2 separate regions of the Homo sapiens genome follow, and region 1 is linked to region 2. The links come from fine-mapping of genetic effects on gene expression. Tissue or cell type: nucleus accumbens. Region 2 holds a variant in brackets; the other region holds the start of a gene. All regions are shown on one strand. Distances are from middle to middle.

Region 1 (2,685 bases), 220 kb before region 2:
AAGAATAAGCCAGGATCTGTGGCTCATGCTTGTAATCCCAGCACTTTGGGAAGCTGAGGCAGATGGATCATGAGGTCAAGAGATCCAGACCATCCTGGCCAACATGGTGAAACCCCATCTCTAATAAAAATACAAAAATTAGCTGGGTTTTGTGTCACGCACCTGTGATCCCAGCTACTCAGGAGACTGAAGCAGAAGAATCATCTGAACCTGGGAGGTGGAGGTTGCAGTGAGTCGAGATCATGCCACTGCACTCCATCCTGGTGACACAGCAAGACTCCATCTCAGAAAACAACAACAACAACAAAAAGAAAACCAAAAACCTAATTAAAAAGTAAGCAAAAACATGAACAGATACTTTTCAAAAGAAGACATACATGTGGCTGACAAGCATATGAAAACAAAATTCACGTTGTTAATTATTAGAAAAATGCAGAGAAAAACCACAGTGAGATACCATCTCATCCAGTCAGAATGCCTATTGTTAAAAAGTCAATGACAGATGCGGGCTAGGTTGCAGAGAAAAAGGAATGCTTATATGTTGTGGGAATCAGGAGGCCGGAGAGATCACTGGGTGCAACAGGAAGGTTTTATTTAGGTGGCCACTGGCCCAGCGGATTAACATCCAAAGGCTGAGCCCTGAACAAAGACAGGGCTTGACTTTTATACATGCATCAGGCAGGGGCAAGTCGGGTTTTTGGCGCAAAACCTGCGAGGTGAGAAAGCAGTCTTACAGAAGCAGAACAAAGGCAGTTAATCATACCGTGACAGGTTTTACAACAGGATTTGCAACATGAGCCTACCTTACTTAAACATGTCTTGTGACCTTGCCATGCTACAGAAAGAAAAACAAGAACTTACAAAATCTTTACAGACTTGCAGAAATAGTTACAAAAATAGTTGTGAGAGCAGAACAAAGAATAATGTTATGGGGAGAGAATTTCAAACAGGGAAACTGATAAGGAGAACTTGTTTTTCTCATCCCTGCTCCTGGAGCCCACTCCTTCGGAGCCCCTGCCTGGCCTTGCAGATAATTATCATAGCTCCAGCAGGACTTTGGAGTGAGTCAGACTGGTCAGGAAAGGACTTGTTTTCCCTTTACTTGTTTTTCCTTTTATATTTCCTGCTTCATTCCCCCCTTTGATGCTTTTTATAAGTAAAGTTTAAGAGAAAGCATCACTATCTTCATTTACTTCAAGAGGAAGTAGCTCTTTTCTTGGCAGGGGTTAATACTTAGTTAGGGCCATTAGTCGTGTGGTAGTCCGTCTGTCCACAAGAGCCTCTATGGCTGTTTGGATATTTTTGACAATGAGGGGTAAGAGACAAGGGAGTATAAGGCAAACTCCCAATATGGCTAGGACTATTTGTACTAAGGTTTTAAATCCTCCAAGGGATGAGAACCAACCTCTGAAAAGGGAATCTGGAGACTATCCTTTCCAAGTCTGAACTGGGATGTGAGCTAACTTTTGGATTTTAGCAGTTATTTCTTTGATGACCTTTCCTTCGTCATCAAGTTCCAGGCAGCAGTTAGTAAGGTTGAACTTTCCGCATACTCCCTCTTCCTGGGCTAGGAGGTAGTCTAAGGCCAGTCTATTTTGATAAATGACATTTCTCATTTTTGTGGCTTGCTGGGCAAGCAGATTCAAGGCCCCTGCAGTTTCATTGGTAATGATTTCTAGTACTGCCTGCAATCTTATAATGCGGTTAAGCATGTAAACTGGGGTGCGGTATCCCCACATTCCATCTTCTGCCCAGGTGGCTGGGCCATAATATTGAATTATTCTTTCAGGAGGCCATTCATTGTCCTTCCAATCTCCTATAGTTATGCCTCTTTTGCTTTTCCTTTTAGTTTCATCATAGATGGGGTATCCTAAGGCTTCTCCCTGTTTTAGGGGCATTAGGAAGAAGGACGGCCTAATTGTCCCCAGTACACAGGCCCCTGACCATTTAGCTGGCAGTTGTCGATATGCTTGTGGCCCACAGATCCAGTAGAGGCCAGAGGGTGCCTGCCAGGTATTTGGAGCTTCAAGTTGGTACCAAGAATGGTTTAAAGATGGGAAACGAGAGAATGGGCTTGGGTGTGGTGATTCAGAATTATTGCTTTTGCCCCTCCATAAAGTCTTTCCTAGTGTCTCGTTGTAATATTGTTGTCCTAGGCAAGTTAACTCTCCTACTGGGTCTGTAAAGGCCTTTCCCCAGCGAGCAATACAGAATTTTCCAATAATGGAGGTTTTTAAGAACCAGATGCTCTGACTTGATGGTGCAGGTTCGAGGGAAGAGGCGGTTAGTGTGAAATTATCTTGGGGCATTAGTTCCCTTGCTTCCCATGGCCATTGGTCTCCCATGTTCATTCCCCCACAGACATAACATGAAGCAACGTGCAGGCTGCTGGCTATGTTTTCAGCCAGTTGGGCGAATAAATTACTGGCCAAGGGAGGGGGCTCAGGCAATTTCTGGTTAACATGCTCATAGAATGACTCAAAAACTCGGAACTGTTGGGTTGAGCGGGTCCGAGTTTTCTTTATGATATATAGATAGACATAGGCTCCTGGGCCAATTTCTTCACCGCTGACTCGTGCCCCTAGCGGTGCTTTTAAACCTGTTGTCCATATGGGCTGATCTGGCTCTAAGATGGTAAGATTTACAGAATTGCAAGTGCTTGTTTTACAATCTGGTTCTAATGGT
Region 2 (2,685 bases):
CGGCTATGGTGACAATAAAGGACTGGGCCTTCTGGCTTCCAAGCAGAAATTATTATAAATTATGAGACCTGCAGAGAACTAGTTCTGAGCTAGCTGTGAAGTTGTATTGCATATTGGAGTGTTTTTGTTTTGTTTTGTTTTTTTCCACATTAGTGGTTGTCCACCTTCACTGCACTTTAGGATTACTCAGAAAGCATTAAGAACAGATGAATAGGTGTCAGCCTACATTAATTAAATCAAAATCCTGAGAATAGGGCCTATGGACACTAGTGTTTAAGAGTTCATAGGTGATTCTAATACGTAGTCAGTGATACCAGCAGAACTACTGTTTTACCTTGTCCCTGAAAAAAAACTTCACTGATCACCTGAGTGTAAAGGAGATTGTGGGCAGGTTACTTAAGGGTCATCTCCTAGACTGTCTCCTAAACCCCCTTCAAAGCACATCTACCACACGCAAGGCTAAACCTTTTAGATACCTTATAGGTAGAGGGACAGGAAACTCACTGCCCCATCGTGGGACAGGTCCAGTGCTTTGAAAGTGCCATCCAGTCCAGTCACCACACCCTGAGTCATTCCTCTGTTCCAGGCACTACTTCAGGTGCTCGATAGAGATATAGCAGTAAACATGCCTCAGAGATGACACTGAGATTACATTCCCCATTAAAATACTGTAGATCTGTTCTTTAAAGCAAAGCCTGCAGAACTCCATTCATTAACTATTTATTTTATTTTATTTTATTTTATTTTATTTTATTTTATTTTATTATTATTATACTTTAAGTTTTAGGGTACATGTGTACAATGTGCAGGTTTGTTACATATGTATACATGTGCCATGTTGGTGTGCTGCACCCATTAACTCGTCACTTAGCATTGGGTATATCTCCAAATGCTATCCCTCCCCCCTCCCCCCACCCCACAACAGTCCCCGGGGTGTGATGTTCCCCTTCCAGTGTCCATGTGTTCTCATTGTTCAATTCCCACCTATGAGTGAGAACATGCGGTGTTTGGTTTTTTGTCCTTGTGATAGTTTGCTGAGAATGATAGTTTCCAGTTTCATCATGTTTTATGGCTGCATAGTATTCCATGGTGTATAAGTGCCACATTTTCTTAATCCAGTCTATCGTTGTTGGGCATTTGGGTTGGTCCCAAGTCTTTGCTATTGTGAATGGTGCC[G/A]CAATAAACATACGTGTGCATGTGTCTTTATAGCAGCATGATTTATAGTCCTTTGGGTATATACCCAGTAATGGGATGGCTGGGTCAAATGGTATTTCTAGTTCTAGATCCCTGAGGAATCGCCACACTGACATCCACAATGGTTGAACTAGTTTAGAGTCCCAACAACAGTGTAAAAGTGTTCCTATTTCTCCACATCCTCTCCAGCACCTGTTGTTTCCTGACTTTTTAATGATCGCCATTCTAACTGGTGTGAGATGGTATCTCATTGTGGTTTTGATTTGCATTTCTCTGATGGCCAGTGATGATGAGCATTTTTTCATGTGTTTTTTGGCTGCATAAATGTCTTCTTTTGAGAAGTGTCTGTTCATATCCTCCGCCCACTTTTTGATGGGGTTGTTTGTTTTTTTCTTGTAAATTTATTTGAGTTCATTGTAGATTCTGGATATTTGTCCTGTGTCAGGTGAGTAGGTTGCGAAAATTTTCTCCCATTTTGTAGGTTGCCTGTTCAGTCTGATGGTAGTTTCTTTTGCTGTGCAGAAGCTCTTTAGTTTAATTAGATCCCGTTTGTCAATTTTGGCTTTTGTTGCCATTGCTTTTGGTGTTTTAGACATGAAGTCCTTGCCCATGCCTATGTCCTGAATGGTATTGCCTAGGTTTTCTTCTAGGGTTTTTATGGTTTTAGTTCTAACATGTAAGTCTTTAATCCATCTTGAATTAATTTTTGTATAAGGCGTAAGGAAGGGATCCAGTTTCAGCTTTCTACATATGACTAGCCAGTTTTCCCAGCACCATTTATTAAATAGGGAATCCTTTCCCCACTGCTTGTTTTTGTCAGGTTTGTCAAAGATCAGATGGTTGTAGATATGTGGTGTTATTTCTGAGGACTCTGTTCTGTTCCATTGATCTATATCTCTGTTTTGGTACCAGTACCATGCTGTTTTGGTTATTGTAGCCTTGTAGTATAGTTTGAAGTCAGGTAGCATGATGCCTCTGGCTTTGTTCTTTTGGCTTAGGATTGACTTGGCGATGCGGGCTCTTTTTTGTTCCATATGAACTTTAAAGTAGTTTTTTCCAATTCTGTGAAGAAAGTCATTGGTAGCTTGATGGGGATGGCATTGAATCTATAAATTACTTTGGGCAGTATGGCCATTTTCACGATATTGATTCTTCCAACCCATGAGCATGGAATGTTGTTCCATTTGTTTGTATTCTCTTTTATTTCACTGAGCAGTGGTTTGTAGTTCTCCTTAACATCTGTTAAGGAGATTAATTAACATCTGTTAATGAGAACTTTCCTCGATTAAATATTCTGTCATTGGAGATTGGTACATTTCTTTGTCAAGGGCAACAGTTTTTAAGCCATTCACATACACACGTTCCTGGGAGAAGTGACACTGGGGAGATTTTTTTTTAACCCCTGAAAATGAACATATTGGAGAATACATTCATGATCTCTCCACAGGCTCTAATAAAGGGGGGGAGACCTGGGTTCTGCACCTGGCCTTG

Direction of the effects. Alleles are on the strand shown, and positions count from the first base shown. SD is a standard deviation of normalised expression in the study named.
For the expression in nucleus accumbens of the gene that starts at base 1,252 in region 1, A is the low allele of the variant in region 2 and G is the other (large effect, 2.2 SD a copy in GTEx).

What was found. PIP is the estimated chance that this variant, and not a neighbour inherited with it, causes the effect.
Region 1: ZNF117 starts here. The variant in region 2 is fine-mapped to the expression of ZNF117 in nucleus accumbens (GTEx, PIP above 0.99). The same link has a PIP of 0.9 or more in ileum.

Annotation. Positions count from the first base shown.
Region 1 is chr7:64,989,785-64,992,469 of GRCh38, forward strand. ZNF117 (zinc finger protein 117) reads right to left here and starts at 1,252. Exons shown (of 4, transcript NM_015852.5): 1 at 163-1,252. The region is part of intron 1 of ERV3-1-ZNF117 (ERV3-1-ZNF117 readthrough); the gene reads right to left. ERV3-1 (endogenous retrovirus group 3 member 1, envelope) reads right to left here. Exons shown (of 2, transcript NM_001007253.4): 2 at 572-2,685. The coding sequence ends at 1,428.
Region 2 is chr7:65,213,823-65,216,507 of GRCh38, forward strand. It overlaps the pseudogene INTS4P1. Among named protein-coding and RNA genes, the nearest start is that of SNORA15B-1, 140 kb to the left of the region's middle. The variant G/A (reference allele first, on the strand shown) is at 1,177.